Regions from separate parts of the Homo sapiens genome. Here region 2 is linked to region 1. The links come from fine-mapping of genetic effects on gene expression. A gene starts in region 1. The other region holds a variant in brackets. All regions are shown on one strand. Distances are between the middles of the regions.

Region 1 (5,528 bases):
ATCTCCTGAGTAGCTGGGACTACAGGTGCCCGCCACCACACCCGACTAATTTTTTTGTATTTTTGGTAGAGACGGGGTTTCACCGTGTTAGCCAGGATGATCTCAATCTCCTGACCTTGTGATCCTCCCAAAGTGCTAGGATTACAGGCGTGAGCCACTGCACCCGGTGCCCCTTTTTATTCTTTGATGACATCTTTTCATCCCAGTGCTTGCAGTGGTGCTGCCATGACTGCTTGCCAGTGGATTCTGTAAATGATCAGGAATAATAATGCTCTCAGTGACAGACAATGAGAGTAACATCTTAACACAAAATATGCTGTGTGATGGGTGGCGTCTCTTCTTGCTATGTGGTGTCTCTTCTTTTTTTGCCCTGGAAAGATCCCCAGACTGACATAGAACACAGTCACAGATGCCCTGGGGACATCATACACTGTGATGCTAAACACCTGCTTTCATCCACATACAGAGTGCTCTTCAAGGATAGCACGGAGGAAAGAACCACTTAGAATGGGGCCAGGCAGCCCTGCCAACATCTCTGCCACTTAACCTTGAGCAAACTGCTTCACACTCGTGAGCCTCAGTGTCTGCATCTGCAAAACAGGAATAACACCAACCTTATAGGACCTTTTACAATGGTTTAGTGATTTAGAATGTATTAGGTTGGTGCAAAAGTAATTGTAGTTTTGCCATTAAAAGTAATGATCAAAACAGCAAGTACCTTTGCGACAACATAATAAGATATCAGACCATGATAGTTGTGATTATTGCAGAGCTCCTGGGGTATCTGAGACATGAATAAAGTAAGCACCTGGCACTAAAACTCTCTTGTCTTAGTCTGTTCAGGCTGCTACAATAGACTATCATAGACTGGTGGCTTATAAACAACAAAAACTTATTTCTTACATTTCTGGAGACTGGGAAGTCCAAAACCAAGGCACCTGCTGATTTAGTGTCTGGTGAGGGTGTGCTTCAGGGTTCATAGACCCCTGTCTTTTTACTGTGTCCTCACATGGTGGCAGGGGCAAGGGAACTCTTTGGGGTCCCTCATATACGAATACTAATCCCATTAATTAGAGTCCTACCCTTATGACCTAATGCCCTCCCAAAGGCCCCCACCTCTTAATACCATAACATTGGAAGTTGGGATTTTGACATATGAATTTGGGAGGAGACATAAACACTCAGTCTGTAGCATCTCTGAAGAGTAAATAGCAATTCTGATACAAGCAGGAGAATTTCACTGGCAACACTGTTATGGTAATCAGGTATTAAAACCCTAATTGAATTATAATCCCTCTAATCGCTGCTGCCACCAGTAGGTAATGATACAATTTATCCTCTTAGGGAACCAGATTCCCCCTATAAGAAGGTTGAATTAATAATACAGCAAAATTCACTATGTTGATTTTTAGAAACATTAATATGTCTGAGGGGTATTCAACCTAAGTCAGATGTTGCTCCAGGCACCAGCTATTTGGGAGAAAAAGGCCCATCTGAGCCAAAGCCAGGACAAGACAAGCAGCTTTAGGGGTGCTAAGGAGTGAGAAGCCTCCATACACCAGGGCTCACTCCTTAGGAGGCCTCCTGAAAGAAGGGGAGCAGGAGAGGGGCAGGGAGAACCTGCATCTATCCAAGGAAGGGGGTGAGCTAAGCTGATGGATACTTGAATTATTGGAGAAAAGTGTGAAATTAGAAAAACCCATGAAAAGACCCAGAGGCTTGTGAGCCTCTTAGGGATTGCAGAATGTTTTCGTTCACATGGAAACCAATTGCACAAAAAGTGCTCATACCTGTATTCCAGGAGCCAGCAAGGATAGTGTGTATGCAAAGAGAGCTTCAGTGAAAGGGGAGTTTCAGGAAATGATGGACCCAGCCTTCCTTAAAAAGAGGAGTCAGATACCTCCTTGCACGCATGTGCACACATGTGTGTACACACATGCAGACACACACACAATAGAGATTGTCTAAAGGTGGGTAGTTTATATAGCTCTCCCTGGATCATATAAACTGTGTTTCACTTGGACTTGCCATTGACTGAAGCAGACTTTGCAGAACATTCCAATCTTCAGCTGGTTATCCTGGACTCCCAGTCAGCCCCATATCTACACCCTGGAGCTCTAGAAAGATCCCTTCCTGGCACAGTGGTTCACATTGTAATCCTAGCACTTTAGGAGGTGGAGGCACGAGGATCACTTGAGGCCAGGAGTTCAAGACCAGCCTGGACAACATAGTGAGGCCCCATCTCTACAACAAATTTAAAAAAAAAATAGCTGAGCATGGTGGTGCACACCTGTAATCCCAGCTACCTCTGAGGATCACTTGAGATCAGAAGCTTGAGGCTGCAGTGAGCTATGATCATGTCACCACACTTGAGCCCTAGGCGACAGAGAGGGACCCTGTCTCTAAAAACAAATAGAAAAGAATGATCTTTGAAGTCACACTCACTGCTGATAACTTGAGGGTGAACCCCCAAGGCAAAGCAGGGGCTGCCTTTTGGGGTTGATCTGATGAATATCATCAAAATAGAGTGATTTTCCACCCTCATAATGGACAAGAGCAAACTCAGCCATGCTTGGGATCAAATCCAGCTCAGATACTTTCTTGAGCAAATTACGAACCTTTCAAAGATTCAGTGTCCTCATGTGTAAGATGGGTTTTTTTGTGAGGATTAAATGAAGAAAGCATGTATAGAAAGTGCTTAGTACAGGGCTTGGTACACGGTAAGTGCTCAATAAATGTTAGCTCTTGTGATTGGTCAATGTGAGCTGTCACTGTGTTGTGAGGCACGGGCTGTTCTACATGAATGCATTTCCCAGAAGAGTCGTGTCTTGAGCCTCTCTCACATGCTGACCATTTTGTTTAAAATATTTGATAGATGAATTCTACACTCCCTGGCCTTCCTTGTCCAGAGGCTTCTTCCTAAGAACTCAGTGCCAGGATTTTGAGTAGCACTGGATATTCTGTGCAATGGGTTCGTTCATCCAATTTCCACCACTTTACAGATGAACTGGGGATCAGAGAAGGCAAGCCACCTCCCCAAGGTCACACAGCTTGTGAGAGCAAGACAACAGCATCGAGGCCTATGTAATAGCAGAGCCATTGCTTCTTTGGCTCTGCGGAAGCTTGTATTGTGGTATATCTGTGGTGTAGCTTTGCTGTCTCCTGTGTCAATGTCAGGAGGACAGGCTGAGCTCCTGGGACCAGAACCCCTCAGATTCCAGGAGGAGCAGAGAAAGCACAGATGGCCTGGAGAGTCCCAGGGGTGAGGCCAGCAAGTACTTTCTTCCCCCAGGTGCTCAGAGCATCCTCTGAGTTGCCAAACAGACTCCCAGAGGGGTCAACTGTGGGCCCTAAACCAGACAGCAGCTGGGAAGCAGGCTCTCAGGGGAACTGGGGTCTCACCAGCTCAGGAGCAGGCCAGGACTCCTCAGCACAGAAGCTGGGAATCTTGAGTGTCCAGATCAGCCTGAAAATCTGGACTTGGGAAAAGCCATCTGGCTGGGGCCACCTGCATGCCGCTGTGACTGGGGCATCCTGCTGCTCTCCTCTCTCACAAGGTGGTGCCATCTGCCTTGTCACTGCTCCTCAGGACAAGCCTGACTGCTCTCCCTGCACCTCTGGCCATTGAGAATCCGGCTGCTCCATCGTGGTGGAAAATCTTCCATGCTCAGAGGGACACCTTCCGACACTGGGGTTCTGGAGAGCCTGGTGCCACGAGACAAGGAGCCATGTGACAAGAGGGGGAGGGGTAGGAGTGGGAGACACAAGTGTGGTTTGGGACAAAATAGGGCCTGAGGCTCACGTGTTATAAAACCCCCTTTGCTCTGCCTGTCTCCTTGAATTGTGGCCAGTTTCACATGGGAAGCAACGTCGAGGGACAGGGAGACTGCAGGTGAGGCCTCAGGGCTCTGCATTCCCATCCCCAAAAGTCACCAGCGTGTGGCCTTGTGGGTGTCACTCCCCTCTGTGGAGTCAACTTTGTGCAGTGACATGCAGAGGCTGGACTGCTGCCACCTCATGCCCCTCCTGGCATGATGGTCGCATGAGGCTGAGTGATTTGCAGGTCTATGGGGAAACCCGCCTCAGAGATGTGGAGGAGAAGCCAGGCAGAGCGCTGTTCATTCCATTTCTTTCTTTTTTTAATCTAAAGGAGGGAAAGAGCTTTATTAACTCAAACAAAGGGATGCCATACAACTTCCCAACGATACTGTGCAGTGATGGTATTAGCTTCCACCTGTTCTTCCATTCTGGGGGCAGGGTGTGAGGACTGGCTGCTCTGGGAGACGCTCTGAGCTGAGAGAGAAGAAATAGCTATGCTAATAGCTGCCCCTTACTGAGTGCTCACTCTGTGTCCGGGGCTACACCGAGTGCTTGCAGCGGGTTCTCAGGCGCACTTAGAACAGCACTGTGAGAAAGGCACTTTTGCTGCCCCTTGTGTACAGATGAGGACAAAGAGGGACAGAGAGGTTTAGAACCTTGACCTATATCACACAGCCAGTGAGCAGACGACCGGAATTTGAATCCTGCAATCTCTCTGCAGAGCCTGCGCATTTAATACCACACACAGTTCTGGCCTGCAGTGAATTTGGTTGTTCTTCCTGCCTGGGGTGGTCAGTTTCCAAGCCTTTCCAGATGGACTTCTGCAGCCCAAAGCTGCGTGCTCCCCGTGCAGGCCCTTGTCAGAGCAGAGAAAGATGGCTGAAGTTGTTGTCCATCTAGATTTTTATCTTCAAAACATTGCTGAAATCAATCTCTCTTCTACCGTCTCCGATTTCCTTTGTCCTTATGGGTGGTCTACAACTTTACTATCATTTTAGTGGATGCAAGAGGAGTGGAGATAAACACGTGTTCAGCCTGCTGTGAATCTCTGCAGTGGCTATGTTGTTTCTTAAACAGATGTAATGAGGCATCTATTCCCTGTGTGCCATGTGCCCCTTGAGTAGGGGACATCTGTTTTGTGTTGTCTGTGTCTCCAGCATTAGAATGGAACCTGGCACACAATAGAGGCTCAATTAGTATTTGTTGAATAAATGAACATTAAGAAACAGAAAAGAGCCTTGTTCCTTCCTTGTGTCTCCTTCTTCATGTTTTGTAGTCTGTTGGAATCTCATTACTAGATTATTGTTCCAGAAACATGTTCCAAGGACAGGCATGTGCAGGCAGAATGGAACTGGGAACGTAAACGGGAAGCTTGAACCTGGAAAGTCACAAGGGGGATGGAGATTTGGGGAGAAGTGGGAGCTGGGAGAGCAGCAGCCCAAGCTGAAGATCTAAGCTGGGGGTCAGGAGAGCCAGCTGAGAGCTTTCTAGGCTGCAGCTGAGCACCCTGTCTATGGGCCTCCCAGCCTCCAGGTCACCAACCTTGTGGGGAGGTGGGAGCAGGTGGGAGCATAGGTGCTGGGCCCTAGTGGACATCGAGGTGCACAGGTGGCCAGTGAATGTGGGATCCATGGGGGCAGAGGGAAGCCCTAGGATGCTGCAGAAGCCTGAGGCCAGCCCGAGGCCGGCTCTGGGAAGAGGGGGAGGCA
Region 2 (5,000 bases), 23 kb before region 1:
AAAGTCCATTATTCCTCCTGAAGGAGCTCAGGATGGGATCAATACCAATGGGATCCAACTCTCCAGCCTCCTCTCCCACTGGAATACCTCAAGGAAGAATGTAAATGAATAGAAGGAACAGAGCAAAGGGGATGAGGATAGAATTTAAGAAGTCGTTGTGCTTGCTACGTTGGTGGCCAGATAGGGCCACTTTGGAACATCATGTAAACCACTTAATAACCTCCCACCACAGTATCTAGAGCAGGGCTGGGCCATGCAGTTTCTTCTCACATATTTTTACTTTAAGCAGAATACTTAATATCTATTGGCACGGCTCTGATGTTATTCATCAGACCTAACTCTGAAATCCTAGGACTCTAAATCATCAAGGCTCAGGTTCAAGTTCAACGGGGAGGAGAAAAAACAACAACAAAAAACCAGGAAGGCTGTCCAAGACATGTTTTCTGACTCTAGCCATAGAACTTGCTACTCTCTTCTCAAAGAAAACAAGCATTTTACACACTGTGAGGAGGGGGAGGGTGCTAATCATTACGCAGAAGTGTTTCAATGCACACACCACTCACATTTAGATTTACTTTCTTTTGCTGCATCTTTATACCTACGATAAACCTGGTTTAATATTCCATTAAAATTTTTTTTTAAACCACTGTAACTTTGTTTAATTTGGTTGCTGAAAAAAGTTCTACTTTGGTATAATCTTGTGTTTGTAACCGAGATCGCTTTTAAGAAGGCACATTCTTATCAGAGATAATTTGGAAAAGCTGCAGGTTGTTCACTGTTTGGTACTATAGTAATGATTATCTTGAACTTACAGTTTAGGGTCCTACTTGTTTCACTTAGCATGCATCCTAAGTATTGTCTATATTGTTACATAATCATGTGGTTTTCATGGTTGCATCATAGTCCATTACAAGGAAATGTCACAGCTTGGTTATCTATTCTTCTGTACTGATCATTTTCAGTTTTTCAATATTTATCAATAACTTTGAGCAGAAAATCTTCTAGATTTCCCTTACATTTTATATTATTTTCTTAAGATGGACTTTCCAAGGTCTCTTATAAAGACAATGAATGTATTTTAGGCCAAGGCTTCTCCAAGTGCAGTGTGTGCACAGATCGCTGGTGGATGTTGTGAAATACAGATTCTAACTCAGCAGGTGTGGGTTGGACCTGAGGATCTGCATTTGTCACAAATGCCTGCATGATGCCCAGACCGTGGCTCAGGGCTTTGGGCAGTCTCTTAAAGTTGCTGGTGTATTGGCATTGAGAGTATTTATAATACTCGTTTTGCCAAGTCACTGTGTGGGCTGGTTACCTAGGAGCTCCATCCCCTCAGAAGTACTTTCTAATCAAGAAGAAAGTTTGGATTAGACTGGTGTCCAGAGGGATGGGGAGCTGTAACACCTGCCTTCAATAAAAGCCTCTAAGCTTAGTTGTGGCCACCATTAGAATCATCTGGGGAGTACACACACACACACACACACACACACACACACACACACACTCTCTCTCTCTCTCTCTCTCTCTCTCTCTCTCTCTCTCTCTCTCTCTCTCTCTCAGCTCCCTCCAGACCACTACAAACAGAATGGCTGGCAATGGAACCTGGGTATCAGTATTTTTTAAAGCTTCCCAGGTATTAGAGGTGACTCTGTATAGCCAGGGTTGAGGACCATTGTTGTAAGCGCTTCCCAACTTAAATCTCACTGAGCTCCCAACTATGTTTTATACCTGCTTGGATGTAAAGCTTGGGGCTTATACATGCTACACTCAGACCTCTACACTTTCGACAATGGATTTAGCACAGCCATGAGTTGTCTTTGCAATTCAGAAAAAACAATAACCATTATTTCGGACAGAAAACAAGGTATTTGTCATCGCTGACTTCTCCATCAAACTCACTCTTTTGTAGCATTTGCTGGTCCCATCTTACTGAATGCCACCATTGTACACTCAGTCTCCCAAGCCAAAAACCTGGGGCTGATCCTAGCCCCTTTACTTTCCCATGCCCTTCAGATCTAAGCAGTTCTCACAGTCCTTTGCTCTGTATGTACTTGTTTCTTATAGAATGTATCACATTATATTAAAATTATCTCTTAGCATGGTATGTCCTTCAACTAGACCATGAGCCTCTTGACTCCAGAGATAGTATCTGATGCATCTTTTTATTCCCCACATCTAGTGCAGTGCCTGTCTAGCACAGAGTGGAGACTCCTGAAGTAACTATTGAATGAATGGATGAAATAAAATAGGTTTTGATCACATATAACCCTGGAAGATTATTCTTATGGTTGAAAGTTTCATAGCAGCATGGTGCTAGCAGGAGCACAGATTGCCTAGATAGTGCCTGGTGCCAACATGGCCTTGGCCTTGGGGGTGTGCAAGA[C/T]GGCAGACGGAATGCCCAGCACGCACTGAGTCCCTGCCACTCACCACCTGCTAGAGTAACACCTGCTGTTTCTGTTTGGCAGTTGCCTTTTCGGGCCTTGGCTTCACGACGTTCTACTTGGCGGGCAAGCTGCACTGCTTCACCGAGAGTGGGCGGGGAAAGAGCTGGCGGCTCTGTGCTGCCATCCTGCCCTTGTACTGCGCCATGATGATTGCCCTGTCCCGCATGTGCGACTACAAGCATCACTGGCAAGGTGAGTCCCTGCCCAGGGCCTGACTAGTCCTCACTGTGGTTGCCCCTCTCCTCCAGGGATGGGTGTAGAAATGCACCAATTGTGGGGAGCTAAGTGCCCATTGTCCAAAACCAGAGGAGGCTGAAATGACAGAGCGGATAAAATTTTGAAGCAAATATGCTGGTTCAAGTGAGGTCTGGCCTTCCTGGGGAAAGAATTGGAGCTCTTCTTCCTCCTTCATGCTCCAGGAGACTGCTTGAGTCCTGCCAGAATGTCAGGCCCTTTGGTTTAGTGTCACCCTTGGCCTGAGACCCAAATGTGATTTTCCTGCTGGATCACTTGCCTCAGTCCTCAGAGTTGGTGCCAAGTGGTTTTTGGCTTCCTTTGCTTATCAAATCCAGCCTACAAGGACGTATTTGTCACCATGGATGCTCTTCCGAAAGGTATATCTAGCCAGGGATTCATTCCAGTAATGCTCCAAGCAGCAGCTGCAAGCCTGGGGTGAGGTTTGCCTATATATATACATATATCAGTCCTGGGGTATTTGTTAAAAATCAAAATAACACAAAACAAGGGAGGGGCTTGTTCCTGAAATATAACTAAACCATGCCATGTCCTTCTGCAGACAAACTGCAGCTCACAGTCTGTCTGAAAGACAACCACCACCTGCCAGAGCACACAGAGAGCTGAGACGGAGGTGATGTCCATGGGAGGTGTGGCCTCCAGGAAGCATGGGGTCTAGGGAAGGGTTTCCCAAGGGCAATCCTTGGATCACCTTGATCAAGCTGCCCTGAGCTAGAAATTGGACTCTCTAGGGGTGCATCTGGAGCAGTGGCCTAGAATCTTCCTGGATAATAAGCAAGCCTGTCATTGCTGATGAAGTCTAAGAAACACTGGTAAAGAGCTCCACCATATGTGTCAATTTTAACCAAACAAAGGAAAGAAAGTGTGCCTGAATCCAGCTTCTTTGAATGAATGGGCTTCCATGATAGGTCTGTGACCCAAACCTCCTCTCCCTTTCTTGTTTTCCGACTGTTGCTGGGCATTGTTCACCTCCTTCCTCTCTCTGTCTTTGCAGCCAGCTGCCTTGCAGGACTGCCCTCTTCCTACCTTTTCCGGGGGTTTGTTGCAGTGGTAATGAGGCAATGGATGGGGACAGGGTTGAGGGGAACTCCTAGCTGAGAGCCCCTCCTTCCTCATCTTCTCTGGAGACCTTGTGCTCCTTCTAGCACTACACAGCTTCTCCTGTTCCTTCCTGGTCTCATCCCTACCCCGTATCCTCCTGGAGCTCATGCTCTGGGTGTCCTGTGACCCCAGCAGGAGCTTTGGGCTGGAGGATGAAGGGTATAGGGAAAGAGATGCTGACATGGTTTGGACAGGTGGATGCAGCAAGCATCAAGTGCTACTAAGGTCTGAGGCCCTCCTGATGGGGGAGGTCAGAAGAGGGTCACAGGTCTGAACCTGCCCTTGTTCTGTTTTTATCAATGACTTGGATGAAATTCTGGATGATAAGAAGCCGCATCATGAGATGGAAGGATGGACAGAGTCACTGGGCCAACAAAAACAGAGGCACAGCCCCCCATTGGAACTGGGAATATGTTCCCGCAGAATTGTTTCCCACCTATGTGAGTTAGGGCATTTCCCCATGAAGAATATTACGGGCCAAATGGCCTTTTATGGACTGCTTCTCATTGATCCCTTGTGAGCCAGTTTCCTCTTTGAGCACAGGAACTATCCCTAATATTTCACAGAGCTTTTCATAGATTGAATGAAATAATGGATCCAAATGTTCTTTGTAAATGGAAATTTACTACACACATGCAAAGTGGTATCATTGTTGCTTAGTACATTTTTTCTAAGGAAGGATGCATTGTGTTTCCCAAACAACTGACTTGGAGACAGACTTTTTTTTTGGAACATGATTTATTTGTAAGCTATGAATGCCAGGTTTTCACTTTTATTCAACCACTTTGGATTCGGGGAATGATTGGGGGTTTCAGAATTGAATCAATTTTTCCTTTATCTTGGAGTCAATAAGAGCCTTTGCATAGTACTAACAACCTAGGATGTGAGGCTGGCCTGTCTTCAGCACTCTCTGGCCCTACCCTGTTTTGTTCCTCATTTCCTAGCTGTGGTAGTGTAACATGGCCAGAGTAAAGGAATGTGGAATCACAGCTCTTGTCTTTAGGGAATGGTGAATTTATGCTGCAGCTGGTGTACCCAAGGCCTGTTGGCAACTGGGGCTTTGAAACCGTACTATCCAACAGGCACAGAAAGGAACTATGAGCAGTCAAGGGAGAATATTCATCCTGTGTGGGCTGTTGGGAAAGCAAAGCAAGAGAATTTATGTTCAGTGATGGTTAGAACCATATTTGGGAATCAAAC

Alleles and levels. Positions count from the first base shown, and alleles are read on the strand shown. Sizes are in standard deviations (SD) of each study's normalised expression.
For the expression in cerebellum of the gene that starts at base 2,880 in region 1, T is the high allele of the variant in region 2 and C is the other (large effect, 1.2 SD a copy in GTEx).

Evidence for each region.
Region 2: its variant is fine-mapped to the expression of LINC01561 in cerebellum (GTEx, PIP above 0.99). The same link has a PIP of 0.9 or more in cerebellar hemisphere.

The regions. Positions count from the first base shown.
Region 1 is chr10:120,595,070-120,600,597 of GRCh38, forward strand. LINC01561 (long intergenic non-protein coding RNA 1561) reads left to right here and starts at 2,880. Exons shown (of 1, transcript NR_103717.1): 1 at 2,880-5,054.
Region 2 is chr10:120,572,666-120,577,665 of GRCh38, forward strand. It overlaps PLPP4 (phospholipid phosphatase 4), which reads left to right. Exons shown (of 7, transcript NM_001030059.3): 6 at 2,466-2,636. Among named protein-coding and RNA genes, the nearest start is that of LINC01561, 23 kb to the right of the region's middle. RefSeq lists an enhancer at 2,462-2,961. The variant C/T (reference allele first, on the strand shown) is at 2,384.